Homo sapiens: one gene and its partners. The protein of the gene in region 2 purifies or fractionates together with the protein of the main gene of each other region. This does not show direct contact. Each region holds a gene or a part of one and is shown on either strand. Other genes may lie near its edges.

The links. The genes of interacting proteins can lie anywhere in the genome.
Region 1: the proteins of TNKS1BP1 (region 2) and CNOT7 purify together in Homo sapiens (affinity purification with mass spectrometry; 6 studies listed by BioGRID and IntAct, with this or other methods). This does not show direct contact.
Region 3: the proteins of TNKS1BP1 (region 2) and CAPZA2 purify together in Homo sapiens (affinity purification with mass spectrometry; 6 studies listed by BioGRID and IntAct, with this or other methods). This does not show direct contact.

What each region holds. Positions count from the first base shown.
Region 1 is NC_000008.11:17,229,843-17,236,870, forward strand, and holds part of CNOT7 (CCR4-NOT transcription complex subunit 7), read right to left. Parts: intron 5,019-7,028; coding exon 4,874-5,018; intron 2,696-4,873; coding exon 2,585-2,695; coding exon of another isoform or gene 2,579-2,584; exon of another isoform or gene 1,670-2,578; intron 1,007-1,669; coding exon 878-1,006; 3' UTR 335-877; coding exon of another isoform or gene 293-334; 3' UTR 1-292. UniProt on the Homo sapiens protein: Has 3'-5' poly(A) exoribonuclease activity for synthetic poly(A) RNA substrate. Its function seems to be partially redundant with that of CNOT8.
Region 2 is NC_000011.10:57,321,953-57,329,639, reverse strand, and holds the start of TNKS1BP1 (182 kDa tankyrase-1-binding protein), read left to right. Parts: upstream 1-4,687; 5' UTR 4,688-4,800; intron 4,801-7,311; exon of another isoform or gene 7,312-7,403; intron 7,404-7,687. Other genes in the region: FACT complex subunit SSRP1, read left to right, coding at 1,214-1,343, 1,758-1,928, 2,126-2,214, 2,751-2,937, 3,162-3,233.
Region 3 is NC_000007.14:116,858,366-116,865,601, reverse strand, and holds the start of CAPZA2 (F-actin-capping protein subunit alpha-2), read right to left. Parts: upstream 3,016-7,236; 5' UTR 2,991-3,015; coding exon 2,952-2,990; intron 1-2,951. UniProt on the Homo sapiens protein: F-actin-capping proteins bind in a Ca(2+)-independent manner to the fast growing ends of actin filaments (barbed end) thereby blocking the exchange of subunits at these ends.

The sequences.
Region 1 (7,028 bases), on a different chromosome or scaffold from region 2:
AAAAAAAAAAGGGTAAATGGTGATGGAATAAAAATAAGCAGATCAAGGGAAGTGTGCTATCATAAAATAACTGTAGCTTCAACATCTTGAGTACCAGTTTCCTGGCAGATAGTAAACATCCAATCACAAGGGATTTTTCCTGAAGGGTGTAAAGCTGGTTTGAAAATTCTTCAGTCACAGAGCAGCCTACACATGCCAATTAGAAACTGACAGACACTAGATGTGCTTGGAAGATTAAACACTACGTACAGAAACAGCAGTTACTAAGCTCCTCAGTAGTTTCTTGTCTTTTTTAAGTTTCGCTGAATCGACAGTTTGCACAACGTGCTATATTCTGTGGGTCAAAACCAAGTAAATACTGTGTAAAGTTGGCAGATTTTTCCAGCTAAGATCAAGAAAAAACAAATTTTCTGATAAAACAGGTTTAGAGTCAGAAACACTCTCTAAAGTGCAAAACTGATGGTCCACGATCTCAAATAGCTAAAACTCCTGCAGAATGGAAGGGAGAGACGTGAAACAGGGAAATAAATTACAGTCAGTGCTAGTTAATTTAGGAAAAGGGAAAAATAAACCAAACTCAAGTCGGTAAAGTTTATCAAAATATTCAATGATGTAGCTTTCCCCACTCTCTGTCACACACGCTTGCTAACAAGTATATTAAATTAAGGCCAAATTTAACCTGAATGCGTTTTTTTTTTTCTTTTTATTAAGATCTGAGATAGGAACGGTCATACTTAGTACTGAAAGGCAGACAATAAAATGGGCCATGAAAGGGGGGGGAAAGGTACTGTCTATTGTTCGAGGGATTCAACCAGAGATAAAACCTATATACAAGCATGTGTGTAGCTCGAAATAAAAATAAAAGGACTATTTCATGTCATGACTGCTTGTTGGCTTCCTCTTCATATGCATTCCCTGTGCCATTCTGTACATAGGATGAACCAGAACCAAGGCCATACAAATGACCACAATATTTGGCATCATCAATATGATCTTCAAAGAACATCTAAAAAGGAATTTTGAAGAAAAAAAAAAGATAATTTTAACCAAAAGGAACCACTTGTAATTTATATTTCAGCAATGTAAGTACTGACTGTTCACTGACAATAATGATGGCTCTTTTCTATGGTGTTCCTTTGAGGCTACGCATTTCAGTTCAATGAGTAAGACTAATGTCCTCAAAAGTACAGAGCTCAGAAACCAAAGAAAGAGACTACAAAAAAAGTGTATAAATGCATGTCTTTTCCATTTAGACCATTTTTATAAGAATTTTTCATCATGGAAAAATAACTATTCCATTAATTTAACAATACTCAAGAATGAAGAAAGCCAATGATGGTGGGGGAAAAAAAGTTTAGGTTCATAAACTGTCTTAAATCTGTATGCAAGGCTGAGCTGGCTATAAATGATCAAACCATAAAGTCATGGACAGTAAAATCCAAACATTCACACTCTATTACTGTCCTTGAAGAAGCCAAGAAAAATAAAGATAAATTAGTGCCAGAAATCCACCTTTAGTTAAATAAACCATTAAGACATTTTTAAAATGCAAAGCTAAAAAATCCAAAAGGTTGTTTCAATTATCTAATGAAACAATTGGAAGGAGTCCAAAACAAAATATTTACGTGTCATGAATGGATAGTCCAAATCACTTCTGAATCAACAACACTACTTAGCAAAACAGCTTTAATGCTTTCTATTATCAATACATTGCTACAAAAAGTTTTAAATTCTCAGTCTCAATTTAATGTCTAAGAGAAAATATACTCAAATCCACAGCGAATTTTTCCAAAAGGGAAAACTTATAGTCAAGAAAAACCTCACTTGTTTTTTGCACAACCAATTTTCCTGTTTACCTATAGCTAGGTGTATCTGTGCACATCACTTAATTACTTAGGAGTAGATAATGGGTTCATTTAGTTTCATTCTTCCATCCCTAACACTTTATACTCAAGGAACTGATCTCTGCCTTTTGCCGTTTAAGGAGGGTTTTCCTAATATGGTTTCTGATGCAACTACTACGTTGGATTTATTTGATCCCTTCGGAATTCAACCCCCCTTTTAAGACTCAATGCAGTAAAAGAGCCTGAGTTCTTCTCTATAAAATCTTCAAAGCACTGAAGAATGACATGAGCAAATAATATATTTATCACCAGTTTAAACCTTAAAAGGGGTCATGCTAGAATAAACCTAATATAAAGATTCCTTGCCTTGTAGGAGGAGCACCAATGGGAGTCAGAAAAGAACTCTGGAGTTCTCCCACTAGTAATGTGTTTAATCATGGAAGTTATTAGCCTGTTTTCTCACCTGAGAAATAATATGGTTGGACCTACATGACTTCTCAGGTAGTTTATGTTTTAAAATTGTTGGTTCTATGATGAACATGTTCTCCCAGTTCCTTCTGAACTACATTTCAAGATGACTTATTTTTGAATACTTTTAAGTGTGGTGGATGTGACTCATATGGTATCTCTAATTATATCTTTACTTAGTAGGTACTTGTTGCCCAAAATCTTTGGCCACAAGATTTTTAATGTTCTCAACCTAACAACCAACTGAGAAAAAGGCAGTGATGTCTTCATACTTCTCTCATTTTGAAAAAGGCCATTCCTGTGAGCAATGAATCAGATCCTGCCTGATGTTGTGGTCCTATCCGTTCCAGCTCTAACTGTTCTGCCACCTCCTGTAATCCACCCTAGAAAAAATAAAAAATTGCTTGTCAAGAAGAAAAATCTTACAAGGCCTAAATTCACAAATTATAAACTTAGACGCTGACCAAAATAAAAATAAACTTTAGTATGTAAAGGTGAATCTTATAAAGATTGGGGGGAAGAAACAGAGAATGTGAATTACTAATGTATTTGTTGAATGCGGAAAAAGTATCATTTAATAGAAAACAAGATCCTAATTGGGAAAATGTATTTTCATCATGTTTTAGGGCATATGACAGGTAAATACTCTCCTAGATATGGGAAGGAAGCAGACCACATATAGGGTAATATTTATCAAGTACACTCATAGTCTATCAATCCAGTAATAATTATAAAACTGAAAAGCTAGTATAACACCATTTTTTTCATATTTTCTTAAACTTCCCACCATCCATTTGTAGTTTTCACTTAATTTTTACAAAACAAAGCCATTATGAATAATCATTAAGAGTATGCTAAATGCTTCACTATGGTTTTCTTAGTTAAGACGAGTATATGCACACAACTCCTTAGAGTGGTCTGCTATAATCCACCTATGTTAATACTCCTAAGATTAAAAAAGAAAGATGAGAGTGGAAAGAGTGGAAAGAAAGAAAGAGAAAGACAGTAACAGAAGGAAAGAAAGTGGGAGGACAGGCAAGGAGAGTAAAGGGAGGGGAGAATAAGTAGAGCGTGAAGGAAAGAAACACCAACAACAAAACAAAAATTCTTCTCTAACTTGTTAAGGCCTCCACCGGCAAAATGGCCCTTCTGTGCATCACAGCTTGAAACAAGGCTTTGCACAGCAGTTGCTTCTGCGCTAAAAATAGCACGAGGATTAGGTATCGTTAGCAGCTGCTTAGGAGAACAGAACTAGAACTGAATAGAACAGCATGGCTGACTATAGGTCAAAAAGCACCTTTGTCGTTAACCTGAATTTTAACACAGCAGCTTACTCAGGACACATTCAGAATATCTGTACTTAGAAACTTCCCAGTAACAACCACATGATGAGCAATAATTTGGTTCCCTGTTCCTGAAAACTATCATTATACAGACATGTCAATTAAAAAAAAAGTCAGATGAAAACATGTAGGCCTCAGCATGCAGTGCTTTCACAGGGTGGGCTGAATTTCTCAAGCAAGGGATACCCTACTGCAAGTTCACTTCCTGGAAGTCCCCTCAAATTACACAGAAGTCTACTGCTACAAACATAAAATAATCTTTCTTGAAAATTTCTCTAGTCATATGCTGACCATATCATGTATTAAAGGTAAACACTGGCCAAAAGAAAGCTTCTCATCTTCAGTTATCTGTTAAGACCAGCGTGACCAACACGGTAAAACCCCGACTCTACTAAAAATACGAAATTTAGCTGGGTGTGGTGATGGACACCTGTTAATTCCAGCTACACAGGAGGCTGAGGCAGGAGAATCACTTGAACCCGGGAGGCGGAGGTTGCAGTGAGCCGAGACCACGCCACTGCACTCCAGCCTGGGCGACAAGAGCAAGGCTCCGTCTCAAAAACAAAAAAAGAATTAATGTTTAGAATTTAAAAATACATGTTATGCAGCGTCAAAATGTTACTACTATCTAGGCAGGACCTACACATTTCCCATAGTACTTAACTGTAACAAGCTGACATCTTTTGGCCACAGAAAAATCTTTTAGCTATATAGTTTAATCCTAGGAGCATTATCCTATCACTAGAACTGACAAAATAATTTCTAGCCAAGATAAGCCAAAAGGAAAGAAAAACTTTTGCCACACTACTAAATACATCTGCATATCGCTGGCCACCTTAGATTCCACCTTGTAAGAACAGATTCTATGCGTCTTGGGAGAAAGTAACAACTCACAATGGCGTGCATATGAGAGCCTCAATGTCCTCAGATTTGTGTTTTGGTTTGTGATTTTCAATCTGGCAAGCAGTGACAAGAACCGGACCTAAGCCTGAAATGTGTTGAAAATTCTGCCTTCTGCCAAGACATACTGAAGCTCTGAAAAAAGGATTCCCTACAAATTATGTATGCAAGAAAAAAAATCACATGACCAGATAATATAATTGCATTCACTGTAATACTTTAAAATATGGTTTAAAACAACATCCCAGCCTAGGCTCGCATGACAGTCACTTGGTCTGAACAGTGTGCTGCTGTAGATAATGCCATCCGAAGCCTTACTTTGAGATTTTTGCAGCTCTTCATGAGGTACTTCACATCATAAATGACAGGAAAAAACAATCGAAGGATCTCAAAGAAGTCAAGTTCTTCTTCAGGCAAGTTAGAGTTGGTTAGGATTTTGATTAAGTAGCCAAAGTCGTAACCGCTATAAAAGGGTTAAAAGAATAGAGAAGAGGGACATATAAATACTATAAAGATTAAAAAAAAAAGTTTTTCTGATTCAAATTTAAGCAAGTCACACTAGAGCCCTCCCAAAAACATTAAAGAGAAGTGCACACAAGAACAGAGAAAACAAACATATTGAGAACTATGAGAAAATGTCGTCATCTTACAGTATTAAGAACTTTATCACTTTATTATTCAGAGATATCAACACAGACCTACACTACCAAACCAGCCTATGGTCAATAAAATACTATTTTGTTGATATCTGAATAGAGAACACCAAGAAGAGTATCAAGCTGCCCACAGATGTCTCAAAATATTTTTTAAAGTAACTATGGAAATGGAGAAATAAAGATGAATGGAAACTTGGCCAGAAGAGTTAGCAAAGGTAGCAAGAGAACTGGCATTCGGTAGACAAAAGTAATGCAAGTCATCCCACTTTTACATAAGGTGGTCATATACTTTATCCAAAGAATAAGACTGTAACAAGGTATTTTCACTTCTCTTAAATGACTGTGTTAAGTAGTCTCTCCCTTTTCTTCCTTCACAATTCTCTTCCTTTCAGTGTGGCTCCCTAAGAGTCATTATTAATGGAAATGCTGCACATGGAAGAAGTGAAGGGTAGTAAAAAAATAACTACTCTCTTGATCATAAAATGCAAACTCCTACACTCTCAAATCCAGAACTCTTCTCCCTTTGTCCGGCCTTTCGCACAGCTTTCTGTCTCCCTACACTCCCAGGCCACTTAGACACGTCCGTCCCTTGTCTACCTTTCCTTCCAAGGACCTCTAACAGGAAGCCTATATGACATTTGCTCACTAACATTAAAAGATTATATTAGCGCTTAGGATTTATAAACTTCTTAAACTATTCTTCATTACTTGAAATTAGAATATGAGGAAAACAACTAATGATATTTAATGGAATAAAATCTTCTATCTTGATAAATATTCAAATATATCAGTCTAACTTAGATTCTAAACTCCAAGAAGACATGAATGAACCCTGTTTGTTTTTGTTCATCTTAATACCCAGTGCCTAGTGCACTGTATTTTGTCAGAGTATTTTTTAAATGAAAGGGTATGTCATATACAGTAAAAGGGAAGGGCAATACTTTCCAGTTCTTTTGCACCTTCATATCTAGGGAAGAAAAATGACTAAAAAAAAGGTATTTGTATCAAGAGTCTTAAGTTATGTTTCCTAAGGTACAAGTTCAAGTGCAGAAGAGACAAAAAAGATGATAGGTAAGAATGAGTGTGTTCAGTACCTACAACTCAACCATTTCTGGTTAGTACACATCAAAGTTGCCCACATGAACAGTCCTTCACTATAAACATCCCACAGATCAGAGACAGAAACTAAACATGCAGGAGACTCAGATTTAAGATACATGTGTGAAGTGGACCAAGTATGAGAGTATTAACATCTATGTAACACAATGCTTTTTCAAAACCTAACAAAAGCCAATATCATTCTGAAGGTTACTTTTAGTCCCTGGAACGTCAGTTTAGTTTACTTAGATGGGAAAACTCTTTTTCATACCTGGAAGTCTATTTCACAAAATCGGAATAGTTTCCTTACCAGAAACACTCTTAAATAATCTAGTTTCATAACAATAAAGAATTTAGAACCACCACTTATTGAGAATTTACTGTTTATAAAGTATTTTGGTGACCATTAAAACAAGTCTTCAAGCTATTTCTTCTAAGGGATGCCTTATCACTTTAAAAAAAAATTAAAATCCATCTCCACACCCATCCCTAGCATTTTCTTTGCTGTTTTGAGATAGTACTTATCACTATCTAACAAATCACAACGTGAACTCCATTTTTAAAAACTGTCTGCCCACCCCCATGAGAATATAAACTCCATGAGGAAAATAATTTTCATCTGTTTTATTCACACCTTAGTTCCTAGAATCTCATCTCAGTGCCTGCCATATGGTAAATACTCAATAACGTTGTGTAAATGTAAGTGAATGGTTTCCCCC
Region 2 (7,687 bases):
TTTCATAAGTTCATATTACTGCGGAGTCTGGGGATTTAATTGGCTTCAGACACTACTGGATTCAGGCGCTCAAATCTATTTCTTCCGATTTCCTTAATTAAAAATAGGTTTACCCCATGGGGTGCCCAGTGACTCTCAGAAGCTCAGGGCAGGCTTAATCCTACTGGTTTAAAACAACACCAGAAGTGCCTCTTTTGGTGAACAGCATAGTGAACACAGTGGTTACCTGCCCCTTTCTAGCCTGAGTTATTAGAATGGGCTGGGGTCTGATGGGCCAGAAATAGGCCAAGTGCCCACCCTTAGAGCCTGTGGTTGGGGTAAGCCCTTCCTGAGTGGGGGCAAGGTGGTTCCCAACAGAAAATTGGGACTCTGCTCTCTTAATCCAGAAGGATTGTAAAAGAATGTCGGGCAGCAAAAAAAACACCCAACAGGAGTCCTCTAGTTCAGCCTGCCACATGCTTATGAAGGTTTATGAAGGTTTAATGAGCAAATACTTGTGAAAGTGCCTTGAAGACTGTCCAGCAGCATACAGGTGTAAGGTAGTTGCATTGTTTGAGGAGTTTCACATATATCAGACAAGACTGTCAATTACAGGGGTAGGCACTGGGTTGGACTGAAGTTGGTTTTCCTCTTTTTGTAGTAACTGATTATCTTTTCATCAGAAGACTGTAGGGGCCAATCCTTTTGTAGTTCATAAACATAATGGTTGGGTGTTACGTGCGTGTGTGAAATGTGCCACCCTCCAGCCTTGTTACGATGTTGACACATTACCCATCTGACATGGAAAAAAAAAGAAGACAAAAAAGACTATAGGGTAGATTAAGGTGATTACTCCGAGGGAAGTGGTGAAGTGGATTTGGGCCATGTTCCAGGCATGAATGAGGCAGTGTTTCTGCCAGTGGTGTCCTGGGGATGGACTAGGACCTGGTTTGGCCATGCCCAGGGAGATCCGCTGAAGCTCATTGATTTGTTTTTCATTCATTAATTCCAATCAAGTAACCAATTGCTGTGGCTGGGTCTGGAGAGGGCATGGCTGAAGCCACCACAGTGAATGGGAGAAAGCAGTGTTGGGGATTGGTGGTGGATACTGTCCTCTGGTCTTCCTCCCTTGCCCCTTTTGGGTGGGTATCTTTGGATTTGTCTTCCTCCTGTCCTGAGGCCGTGGGGTCCTGTCTTCCCTCCTCAAGTCTAAGCCTGGCTTGTTCTCTGGCAGGTTTGACAGCAACGCCTCTGCCAGCTCCTCCAGTAATGAGGGTGACAGTGACCGGGATGAGAAGAAGCGGAAACAGCTCAAAAAGGCCAAGATGGCCAAGGACCGCAAGAGCCGCAAGAAGCCTGTGGAGGTGCAGACTGTAGATGGGAGGGCCTGTGTGTGGTGCAGTGGGTGGGGGGCGTGGGAGGCATTCTCTTTACCTTCTCCTGTCCACCACCAGTAGGACCTGTTCTTCCTTGGGGCTGTTTTTTATAGCCAGTGATTATAGCCTTGAGGGTTATCTTCTTGGAAATTTTTCTCACTAGCCCTGAGATTAATAAGCTTCTGGAAGGTCTGAATTAGGAGATGGGCTTCTGTCCTGGTAAGCTAGGCACTGAATTGCAGAGGGGAAGGAGATACTATCCTTGCCCTTAGGGAGCTCTCGTCTCGCCTGATGCTATTTAGTCCTCCACTTTTTCTCCAAGTTAAGTGATCTAAATAATTTATTTGGGAAAATGTATGGGTTCTGTGGGAAATAGCTGAAGGCATTTGGGTTCTTATGTAGGTGAAGAAGGGCAAAGACCCCAATGCCCCCAAGAGGCCCATGTCTGCATACATGCTGTGGCTCAATGCCAGCCGAGAGAAGATCAAGTCAGACCATCCTGGCATCAGCATCACGGATCTTTCCAAGAAGGCAGGCGAGATCTGGAAGGGAATGTCCAAAGAGAAGAAAGAGGTGAGTAGCAGCAGAGGAGGGGTGATGCCTCTCATGGGCTGGCGAGAGGTGCTGTCTTGGGGTGGCGAGTCTCATGACTGATAGGGGAGCAGTATGAGCCATTGGTGGGACTTTCTGTATCGATTTTGCCTGCATCAGGGGAGAGGGGAGATGGGAGAGGTCTTATTCTTAACTGTTTTTTTCTGTGTGTGAGACAGGAGTGGGATCGCAAGGCTGAGGATGCCAGGAGGGACTATGAAAAAGCCATGAAAGAATATGAAGGGGGCCGAGGCGAGTCTTCTAAGAGGTGAGTGTCGAGAACATGGCCCAGTCACTGATTTTTGTGGCAGACTTTTTTTTTTTTAACAGGCCGAAGTTGAGCATTGGAAAGTTAAAGACAGCAGAGATGCTTCTGACTGCAGTAGGGTAGTGCTTCTCAAACCTGGGTAGGCCATTGCCCAAGTATGGGTGACACAATAGGGCATTCAAGTCACTGGGGAAATATGGCCTCTTTTCCTGGACCATTTTATTTGAAGGTATGGGGGAACGAAAAAAATACTATTATGGAGTGCAGTGCACAGTTTGCATGAACTCTAAAAGATAAAGCAAGAAATATCAAGTAGGTTTTGCACATTGGGCTGCTTTAGGCTGTGCCCTCTGATTCTTCTGGTGTACTCATGATACTCTCCCTTGGTGCCCTCCAGGCTGACGCAGCTATTTACGTTCAGAGTGAAATGGGCTGTGTGGCTGGGATTGGGAAAGGCCTTGTTAAAGCTGGGAGAGGTTTGGTCATGGTGACAGGGGACCTGAAGGCCCAGCTCCTCTTCCCTCTTGCCAATACAGGGACAAGTCAAAGAAGAAGAAGAAAGTAAAGGTAAAGATGGAAAAGAAATCCACGCCCTCTAGGGGCTCATCATCCAAGTCGTCCTCAAGGCAGCTAAGCGAGAGCTTCAAGAGCAAAGAGTTTGTGTCTAGTGATGAGAGCTCTTCGGGAGAGAACAAGAGCAAAAAGAAGAGGAGGAGGAGCGAGGTGCGGCAGGAATGTGGGGCCTGTGGGCTGGGCAGGGTGAGGGGCATGTGTGTCTGTGTGGGGTTGGTCTGTAAGAGTAATGAGTTGGAGTGGATGGTGGAATTCTGAGGTTCTGAAGGGGGGTGCTGTAGTTGGGGGCGGTAGGGAATTGCGGGCCCTTCACTGAAGAGTGGGTGGGGCACCCAGGACTCCAGCTTTTCCCTTAAGACACCTTTGGTTTTCAGGACTCTGAAGAAGAAGAACTAGCCAGTACTCCCCCCAGCTCAGAGGACTCAGCGTCAGGATCCGATGAGTAGAAACGGAGGAAGGTTCTCTTTGCGCTTGCCTTCTCACACCCCCCGACTCCCCACCCATATTTTGGTACCAGTTTCTCCTCATGAAATGCAGTCCCTGGATTCTGTGCCATCTGAACATGCTCTCCTGTTGGTGTGTATGTCACTAGGGCAGTGGGGAGACGTCTTAACTCTGCTGCTTCCCAAGGATGGCTGTTTATAATTTGGGGAGAGATAGGGTGGGAGGCAGGGCAATGCAGGATCCAAATCCTCATCTTACTTTCCCGACCTTAAGGATGTAGCTGCTGCTTGTCCTGTTCAAGTTGCTGGAGCAGGGGTCATGTGAGGCCAGGCCTGTAGCTCCTACCTGGGGCCTATTTCTACTTTCATTTTGTATTTCTGGTCTGTGAAAATGATTTAATAAAGGGAACTGACTTTGGAAACCATGTCCTCATGCTTTCTTTGTAGCCTTGGTGTGTTGCTCCCACTTTTATTGGTGGTGTTTACTGCTCTGGTCAGACTGGGCAGGGCCTTCCTGGCCAGCCGGGAAGCAAGTCTCGAGGTACATCCTGTTCTGTTCCCGGCTGGACGAGCATTGGTTTTCACCCGCCTCTGCCCGGATGGGCCACCTGAGAGTCTAGAAATGAGAGCTGATCTGATTAGGAAGTTTCTCCCAGTTACACTCCATTAGCCAACCAAGCTAGGGGGAGGCAGCTCTTGGCTGCATCCTTACCTATGAGTCAAGGGTCTTCCAAGGCTTTCGATAATGAAATCAGGATTGACTGTCCTTCCCGCAGCCGGGGGAGTGGAAACCTGAGCCTGGAGAGTCGGGGAGGATGAGCGTGTGCGTAGAGTGGTGGTGGTTGCAGCCTGGTGGTGGTGCAACAAAGTACGGAGTTATATGTGAAGCTTTTGTTCTTACGGGAAGAAGGGGGTATACAAACTTCAGTGTAGGGAGGAACCCATGTCTGAGAAGGGGCCTAAAAGGAGATAAAGGTCACTAATGAGGAATGCAGAGCTGCCAGACTTCTTCACGGTGGCTCTAAATCTGAATTGACACAGGAGGGTGGCCACGTTGCGCGCGTTCTCAGCACTCAGGTGGTTGTATCAGGAAGCCGCTTCAGTCAGCCGGCGGCTACCTTCTTGCCGGCGTAGCTCGATGATACTGTGCTCTGTGCAGGCGGCGGAGCCCGGGAGGGGCCGCCAAGGCAGTTTCTCTAGGCAGTCGTCTCGGTGGCCATTTTACCCGAGCGCTCCCGGCTGAATTGCGTCAGTTTCGCCCCGGTCTGAGACTGGGGCGGGCCCCTCATCTGCAAGCCTCATGAATAATTGAGTGCTGGGCCGCGCCTGTTTGCCGACGGTGGGACGAATTCTGCACGGGCTTCCCACTCCCGGGTTCCAACCGGCTCATGCATATTCATGAAGCGCCCTGGGGGCGTGGACCTGGGCGGAGTTGGGGCGGGGCCCCGCCGGGGCTCGCAGTGGCTTCGTCCCGCGGTGACGGCGGCGGCGGCGGCGGTAGCAGCGGCGGCGGCGGCGGGGACTGGCATCGGGGCCCCGAGCCGAGCGGAGCCGGACCCCGGGCGAGCGCGTGAGTGCGCGGGGGCGGTCGGGCGAAGGAGGGGGCGGGGTCCGGGATGGGGCGGGGGAGGGGCATGGAAGGAGTGGGTGCTTTCCAGCCGACACCTCGGGTTGAGGTGGTGGTGGTCGGGGGGTCACCAGGAAAGTTTGCAGGGGCCGAGGGCGCTGGGGACGCTGGAGGCCCGGGGGAAGGTGGCGCGTGTGCGCGGAGGCGGAGGGCGCATGGCTTGGAGCTCGTGCTGGCAGAGCCAGAAGAAAGGGGGGAGGGGGCGAGGGCTTGGGGCGGGGCCGGGGGCGGGCAGAGCCGCTGGAGGGACCCCTGCCTCCCCTTCCTCCGGGCCGCGCTAGCCCCCTCCCCCGGCTCCTTCGGCACGCCCCCAGCCACCCCAGTCCGCCCCCACCTGATCGACGTCTGCAGCCCACCGTCTGTTCGCCGGCTGCTTCACAGCCCGCTCACAGGTCCTCCGCTTCTGCCGCCACCGCAGCCCCCTCCTCCTCCTCCTCTTCGGCTGCCGCCGTCCCTTCTGTGTCCAGAGCTCCCCACTGGGCCCCTCCAGACAGCCCATTGCCCGGGGCTGTTCCATCTTCCCGTTGGCCCTCCCTCTTTCCAGCAGTTTACGTGCTGTCCCTGCCGACCTCTCTAGCCTCGGATCCGGCTGGAGATCCTGGGGTCCATAGGGGCGACCCCGCCTGCGCCGAGTCCCCTCCGGGGCTGGAGCTGCCCAGCCCTTCTGGAGGCCTTATCTGCCAGGGGTCAGCTCGTTTCTACCCTGCTACCCTCTACCCCCTGGTCTCTTGAGGGTGGGGAGTGCTCAGAACCGCTGCGAATCGCAGCTTCTGGCCACAGCCTTGGTGGCCTTGGTCACCTGGGGCCCCTGGCTGGGGTCTCTGAGTTGCTGTGGCCACCTCCGCACCTGGGGACTCTGAGCCCGCCTTCATTGCTGCAGCCCCTCATACCGCAGAGGGGCCCATCAGAACCCCAGGTGAAAGGATTTTTTTGGTTCTGAGCCAATTAATTTCCATCTCCAACCACCCACACTATGTTCCTAGTAATAATGTTCAAGGACAAGGAAACAATCTTGTGTTTTAATTTTATTTTTTCTATCATGTGCCCCTCCCCCCACCACACTTGGCCTGGCTCTGCACAGTTATTCACCCACCCACAGTGGGCAGTCTTCCGTGGTGGTTAACTGACCAATGGGTTGACAGTACTGGGTTTCTCTACTGTCTTCATACCCTCTCCCATCTTTGAAACACCTGGGGCAGGGTCAGCGTTAGGGGAGGGGTGTTGGATTTTGCAGAGGATGAGCACTGGGGGTCCCTTTTAAGGATTTGGTGCTGTCTTCCCAGACCAGCTGGAGTGGGTGACTTTAAGTGAGGCAATGCCCCTTGCAGGTTGGAGAAGTTTGGGTTGTCCTCAGGGCTCTGCATACCAGGTGAGGGAAACTTCCGCCTTGCATGAGAGGTGCAGGGCCCTATCCCCCAGGGTCTCCATGTTTTTGTGGGTGGGAGAGTGCTTCAGGAGTCAGGATGGGAACTGAGGAGGTGGTTGGAGTATCTGAAGAACAGGTGACAGGACTAGGGCCTGGGAGAGTGAAGGAATGGTCTGGGAATGCTGGTAGCCTGGGGTCAGGGAAGAGGAGGAGGTGGTTATCAGGGATGTTAGCTCATTGGTGACACTGAATGGAATCACAGTAATAATAGGCAACATTTGTTGAACACTTATTATGTGCTAGGCATTGTGCTAAGCCTATTTCATGTACTATTTCATGTAAGCCCCCTCAGGGTCTCAATAATCCCATTTTTCAGTTGGAGAAACTGAGGCTTGGAGAAGTCACAGGGCTAGAAAGTGGTAGACCCACCCAGCACTGAATCTTGGTATATCAGATCCTGAAGCTCATGTGACAGGCTTCTACCACCAGGCTGTGCCTCTTGGTTTAATTTCTTCTGTCCCCCTCAGAACTCCTTAAAGCCAACCCTAGGCTGGTGAGTGAAGCCCACATAACCCCTTTTCATACATAGGCTGTGGCTGCTCCACCCTGACTGTCGTGGAAGGTGGAGCCCCAGGGAATTTTCCCCCAAGTCACTCCACCCCCCGGATGTTCTCAAGCCCTGTCCCGTTCTCCCAGCCCAGGCCTGGGCCGGCTCCTCCTTCCTCTTGGCTAGGCCCTGGAAATCCAGTGGGAGGCCATTGCTATGGCAACAGGACTAGGCCCTGGCTTTACCTCATCAAATTCCAAGCTGAAGCCAAGCGATTGAGAAATTAAAGAAAAAAATATATTCCAGATGTTTACTTTTTATTCCTTATTTTTCCGTGTTTGGATGAGACAGTTCTGAGGGAGGGGAGAGAGTGGGGCAGGGATGTGGAAGGAGAACAGGGAGAGGGGGGAGAAGGAACCACTCCCAGCTGCGGGAGGGAGGGAGAGAGGGAAGGAGGGTGAGTGGGAAGGGGGAGGCAGGCAGTGGGGCGGAGCCCAGGTTGGGGAGGAGCGGGTTTTTCCCGTCTCCCGTGAGGTGATTCACAGACAGACTTCATACTTTGCAGCTCTCTAGCTCTGCTTTGAGTAGACACCTCCAGCGGGGCCGTCCTACCCAAGGGGCACTGTGGGGACTGTAAGTGGGGTGTCTTGGAGAGCTTGTCAGAGGAGGGAGCAGTGAGTGACTCCCTGAAGCGCTAGGACTTTGGGGTTAGGAGATAAGAGTTGGGGAGGATCTTTGAAGAGTTGAGGATATGGCTGTTGGGAACCTCCCTTGACCTCCTCCTACCCCCCCCCCCCCACTCCAAGTTCTCTCTTCCTGTCCCACACTCTGCCTCTGTTAGAAATAGGAGACTTCTCTCTGCTAAACCTACTGGCAACGCCCAACTCTTTTTTTCCTTCTCTTCTCTCTCTTTTCCT
Region 3 (7,236 bases), on a different chromosome or scaffold from region 2:
TGTCTAAGGAAGAATCAACGTTTCTCCTTTTTCAAAATAAGCTGTCAACAAATTAAAAATGAAGAGACAAAACCAGAAGAGGTTCTTATCAATTTTGTTTAAGAAAGCATAATGTCTGCTGGGCATGGTGGCTCACGCCTGTAATCCCAGCACTTTGGGAGGCCGAGGGGGGTGGATCACCTGAGGTCAGGAGTTCAAGACCAGCCTGGGCAACATAGCGAAACCCCGTCTCTACTAAAAATACAAAAATTAGCTGGGCATGGTGGCATGTGCCAGTTATCCCAGCTACTCGGGAGGCTGAGGCAGAAGAATCGCTTCAGCCCCGGAGGCAGAGGTTGCAGTGAGCCAAGATTGCACCACTGCACTCCAGCCTGCGTGACAGAGTGGGACTCTGTATCAAAAAAAAAAAAAAAAAAAAAAAAAAGAAGAGAGCGCATAATGTCACAAGAACATCAACGTTGGACTAAGACAAACTTTAAATACTACCTTCATCTTGACCGTCCTTGGGTGAACTACTTAAAGCTTTTGAACCTCACTCTACTCATCTGTGAAATGGTAATAGAACTACCTCTTACAACAACAAATTAAGTAATGAATGTATCTAACTGAGCCAAGCATATATAAAGTATGGTACTAGACACATCTTAACAGCTTCTCTTCCTTAAATTTGCAATCTAGAATGGAAATTTCAAAAACTTAAAAGTATTCAAAACTTAATATTTTTTTTTAGAGATGAGGTCTCGCTATGTTACCAGGCTGGTCTACAACTCCTGGGCTCAAGCGATCCTCCACACCTTGGCATCCAGAGTAGTTGGCATTACAGGTGCAAACCACCGTGCCCAGCTTAAGAGCTTATTTTTGAAAATTACCAATAAGGCAGTAGAACGAGTAATATTAAAATATCACTTTTAAGTCCTCTCTGTTTTCTGATCCCATACTGGACACATCCTCCTCCCCCAAAATGAAAATAACCTTTAGATATCTCAAGTGACAAGAACGTTAAAATTTCACTTTACTGGTTACTTGAATTTAACCTAAAGGTTTTGTCAGTTTTTAAATTAGTAAATATAGTGATAAAATTTATATGTAAAATATCTACATAATATTCTTACAAAACATCAAAAATCAAATTAGAATTTTCATTCATTTAACCATAAAACATTTTGCTACTAGGCGGCACAGGCTTTAAGACACACAACCTCCTCATTCCTCTTTATGAAGCTTAGTGCCCTGAGAGTGCCAGATAATAAGGCATCTTGTTATCTCATTTTTAAAAAACTTTTTTATTTTAGGCCTTTACAACACATGGCAGGTCTATATTAACTCCCACACCGAGTAGTCTCTCTTCAGCTAGATTTCTAGCCACTTGAGCTACTAATCATCACTTAAGAATGGTAGAATAAAAACACGACAATCTCTTTTTAAGCTTTTTAGCACGCCTCAATTTTAAATATGTTTGTGCACTCCTGTACACTTTCAGTCACCTAAATAAAATAGGATTATTTATCAAGATTATACATTGAATACTGTACAGCAACTTTTGTGGATACGGGGATCTGCCTACTGGGTCTGTGGGCTATGGAGACGTTGCTCGCCCCCATTTTGTTGTTGTATTATCACTTTCACCGAAGAACACAAGAGAAAAAAAGATTTCCGAAAATAAAGATGAGGCTGACTTCTGACCATTCACATTGGGAATGGGACAGAACCTTCTATTTCGGTGCAAGAACACAGCATATAAAAACATCTAGAGCAGAGGGTCCTAAATGAAAATATCCTCAGACTTACATGAAGATTTCTTAAACACCACAACATACCTAAATGTACCTGTATTTTCCTGCACTGGCTTTGAAATTTAAAAATGAAGCACTCTTTAACGAAGAGTGGACATTTCCAACCCTGCAACTAACTCATTCCTATGTTCTGTCAGTTACTTCTAAGGGTCCTTTCCGAGAAACAGTCAAAATTAGCAGGGTTCTCCCCTACCCCACCACCCTCGGGAATGGGACGTTCCCAAAAGCCAAACGAAAGGGGCGAATTAAGAGAGCAGCAGTTCAATGAATTATTCCATTACTCGTTTTAAATATCTGAGAACTTAAGTCGTTCATCTGGTTCCATTGCTGTCACAGCATCTAATATACAGTAAAAGGAGTTGCACATTTTCCCCTCTTCGGAAGAAGTCCTAGCAGGAAAGTGAGGTGCCACCAAATCGACCCCCGGGGGGGGGCTGCTGCCAACGTGGGCAGAAAACAACTATGGGGAGGGGGTCGTCTTTTTGTGAGCAACTCCGCTGCCTCCTGGGGAACATGGGAGCTGCAAGCTTACTGCTAGAGCCACGAAAGGAAAGAGAGAAGGAGGGAGAGATGCCTCCATGGGGAAAGGGAAAAAAAAGGATAAACCGTAGAGGATCAGAAAAGGAAGCATTTTGCTTTGAGGAGGGGGAAGTAGAAGGGAGAAGTGAAGGTCTGCTTCCTAAGCGATTTTTCCCTTCCCCTCACCCGCCGCTACACTCACAGGCCAGGCCGCCGCGCTGGGCACTGCCCTTGGGCCGCTCCCACGCACGGACGCAAACCCCTTTGCGTCCCTGGTCCCCGGTCCCCGGCCCCGGCGGAGGCCCCGCGGCCCGACAGCAGGAGAGGGTCCTGGGCAGCCGCCGCCCTCCCCCGCGCCCGCGCCCCCGCCCGCCGTCGCCCGGCTCCCGCTTCCTATTTTCGGAGTACACACCCTACAAGGAGCGGAGCGAGCAGGCCTGGCAGAGACCTGCCCCCGCGCGGGGCCTCGGGTGACGGACAGGGGCAGGCACTGGGCGCAGTAAGGATGGGGGAGGAAGGGCAGCCGAGGGCAAGGCCAGCTGCGGGCCAATGCCCTTCCCCCGCGACCAGACTCCGGGCCCACCCGCCCGGGCTGAGCCGGCTCCTGACAGCCCGCGCCGTCGCCCCCGCGACTCTTACCTTCTCTTCATCAGACAACTGCTCCTCCAGATCCGCCATCTTCCTTCTGGCGACAAACCGCGGCGGCGGCGGCGGCAGCGGCCACCTGACTTCCCCGTTTCCGTGCGGTCCTCAGCGCCGCGCGCCCCCGCTAAGGGAGGGGCCCGCCGCTCAGGCCGCCGCGCACGCGCACCCCGGGAGCCCCGCCTCCCTCGACCCGGCCCTCGCGGACTGAGCGCGGCTGTGCGCGTGCGCGGGCGCCTGGTGGCCGGGCGGGGGACCGTGTCTCGCTGGGCCGCCTGCTGCAGGCTTGCTAGCATCTTGAGTGCAGCGTGCTCTCCCCACTGTGACCATATGGGCTCAGTCTGCGATGAGTACATTCTGAGCCCTTCGTTATGTTTCCATCAAGTCCTGAACTCTGCCAGCTAAAATGTGAAAAGGTGTACAAATAGAAGCCTTTTAAACATTGTTTTTTCAAATATTAGAGAAGATAGTTGGCTTTCATTAAAATACACATCACGACCCTCTCCATAATTGAAAGATTGCTCTTGATATACTCCTTTATTCATCCAACAAATATTTTTTGGTTCTTTAACGGGGTGCGGGGCACTGTGTTAGTCTCTGGGGATACAGTGTTGAGGGGGAAAAAAGCAAGCTAGACATACATGTTCATAGCAGCACAATTCGCAATTGCAAAGAGATGGAACCAACCTAAGTGTCCATCAACCAATGAGTGGATAGAGCAAATGTGGGTATATACACCATGGAATACTACTCAGCCATAAAAAGGAACGAAATAATGCCTTTTGCAGCAACTTGGAAGGAGCTGGAGGCCATTATTCTAAGTGAAGTAACTCAGGAATGGGAAACCAAATATTTTATGTTCTCACTTATAAGTGGGAGCTAAGCTATGTGGGTTCAAAGGCATAAGAATGATAAAATGGACTTTGGGGACTGGGGAGGGGATAAATTACTACGTATTGGGTACAGGGTACACTGCTCAGGTGATGGGTGCACTAAAATCTCAGAAGTTACCGCTAAAGGACTTATCCATGTTACCAAAAATCCACCTGTATTCCAAAACTGTTGAAATAAAAAGAGAAACTTCCATACTCAAGAAGCTCATTTTCTACTCATTAAACAAACATATATTGAACAGTTGGGGCCGGGCGCGGTAGCTCAGGCCTGTAATCCCAGCAATTTGGGAGGCCTCCGTGGGCAGATCATCTGAGGTCAGGAGTTCGTGACCAGATTGGCCAACATGAAGAAACCCCGTCTCTACTAAAAATACAAAAATTATCCGGGGCGTGGTGGCGCATACCTGTAATACCAGCTACTCGGGAGGCTGAGGCAGGAGAGTTGCAGAAGTCATTGCAACCCGAGAGGCGGAGGTTGTCCCTGTCCCTGCAACCCGGGAGACGGAGGTTGCAGTCAGCCGAGGTCGCGCCACTGTACTCCAGCCTGGGTGACAGAGCAAGACTCTGTCTCAAAAAGCAAAACAAAAAAAAACAAAAACAGTTGGGGAAGGCACTGTACTATTCCAGGGGAATACAAAGCTATGTTAGACATGGATCCTACCCTCCTGAATAGGTTTGCCATATTAAATATAGGACACTTAATCAAATGTGAATTGCAGATAAGCAATCTTTTAAAAAGTATGTCCCATGAAGCAGTGGAGACATACTTAAACCAAAAAATTACTCATTGTTTTCAAATTTTACTGGACATCCTTTACTTTTATTTGCTAAATCTAGCAACCCTGCTTTTGAAGCTTGAAGTTTATGAGAGATTAAACATGTAATCAAAGCTGCGTAGATATGAATCAATTGGGAATCTTGTGAAAACGAAGTTGTTAATTCAATAGATGTGGCATGAGACTGGAGAATCTGTATTCTCCAGAATACAGCCTGTAGAATAACAGGCTCCCAGCTGATGCCAGTGCTCCTGATCTGGAGACCACATTTTGAGTGGTAAGGCCTTAGGGTTTAAGATAGGCGTTCAGATTCCGTGAGGAACTGTTGAGAACTTTTGAACAGTGACATGACATGATCAGAAATATGTGCAGCAAGATGAATCTGACAGCTGCACATAAATGAAATGTGAGAGTATCAAATAAATGTTCAGAGGCAAGACCTTATTATTAAGTAATTTATTGGGTGTTCATAATGTGCAAATCATTGTTTTTTGTGAATGGACGGCAAACAGAAGCTATGATATTGAAAAACTGATGGTTCATTTGGGGAGAGAAGAGGAAGGAGAAGCATGCTGACACATGCAGAAAAAAGCAGGTGTCCTTTCGAGGATAAACGTTGTGAAGAAGATAAAGAGAATAAACCACATAGTTTAACCAAGGGTAACACTGGATGAAAATTAACATGTTTACTCTTATAGATTACAAATCATTGCTTCATTGATTTCTCACTGCAACCTCAAGTGAGGTTCTTATCAGTACCATTATACCCATTTTACAGAAGAAAAAAATGAGGCTAAATGATTTAAGATTGCATAGATCCCAGCACTTTGGGAGGCAGAGGTGGGCAGATCACCTGAGGTCAGGAGTTTGAGACCAGCCTGGCCAACATGAGGAAACCCTGTCTCTACTAAAAATACAAAAATTAGCTGGGCGTGGTGGCTCACACCTGTAATCCCAGCTACTTGGGAGGCTGAGGCAAGAGAATCACTTGAACCCAGGAGGCGGAGGTTGCCTGGGCAACAAGAGCAAAACTCCATCTAAAAAAAAAAAAAAAAAGAAAGAAAGAAAGAAAGAAAGAAAGAAAGAAAGAAAGAAAGAAAGAAAAAGATTGCATAGCTCCTAAGTGACCGAGCTGGGATTGGAACCTAGGCATCTTATTTTATATTTCATGTTCTTTCCACTGCAAGATTTTTCTTTCTTCCTCTTAAGTCTGGGCACTGTCCACCAAATAAAACTTAATGAAGGCAATTACTATCCCATCCTGTAAATTCAATTCACCACCCTGTGCTGCATCAGCAGTACTTCTGGTTTTGTTTTTTTTCCTGTCTTTTTTCCTGTTTACTCAGCAACACCTATATTAGTATTTTGTATACAGTGGATACTCAGCAAATATTATTGCTTGATTAATTGGCTGCTCTCTTCCTCTAGAAACCTCACCCAAATATGGTAATGTTTTGCAATAATTTGAGTCAGAGTGTGTTTATAATTGTAACCTTAGTGATACAATACATGTGGTTTCCCATAGTGACACAACCCACAATTATGTATAATTTCTGATAATCTTTTCAGTAATCTTCCAATACCACCCTCTTGGTACAATTAAAAGGAATTCTAAAATTTGCGTAGCCTATGTATTCTAGAAAGATTTTAAGCTGTCACACAAATAGGTAAAATATGAAATTATTGTTATATGACTGCAAGGAAAAATGTACTGGTAGTCTTGGATAATCAGTTGTTTTATGAGGAGGAGAAAATAAACAAAATATTTATCCTATACATGATTTTACCTACTAAGAATTTCTACCCTTTTCTTAATTAATTTCCAAACTTACTTCTCTTCTTTTTGTTTTTGGCTGTTTTTTGTTTTTGTTTTTTTTTTTGAGACACAGTCTCGCTCTGTTGCCCAGGCTGGAGTTCTGTGTCATGATCTCGGCTCACTGCAACCTCTGCCTCCCAGGTTCAAGCTATTCTCCTGCCTCAGCCTCCCGAGTAGCTGGGACTACAGGCACCTGCCATCATGCCCAGCTAATTTTTGTATTTTTAGTAGAGATGGAGTTTCACCATGTTGGCCAGGCTGGTCTCGAACTCCTGACCTTGTGGTCCACCCACCTTGGCCTCCCAAAGTGCTGGGATTACAGGTGTGAGCCACCACGCCTGGCCAAACTTACCTTTCTTCTGCTTATTCATGGTCTGATCTTGGTCTTTCCAATTAACATCACCAGAATTTTTCTTCCTTTTATAGTGTTTGTTTTTAAGTTACTTGTATACTTTTACATCGATTTTCCTATGGATATACTCGAATTATTCAACTACGTTTTAAACTTGTCAAGACCAGTGGTTACCCAATTTCACAGAAAAACAATCTTAGGGTGCATCTACTACAAACCTCTCTCTTTACAGATGAGTTGAGCCTTAGATAAATAAATGACATAATAAAAATTGCACATCTAGCTAATATTATTTTAGGATCCAAGTATCCTGATGGTCAGACTCATGTTCTTTTATGTACATATCCATACCAAATAATGTAAAATAAGATGAATAATAGTATTACTGTGTGATCATTAAGTGATTGTACCAGATATAGACTTCTATAGTACCATCTCTGCACCA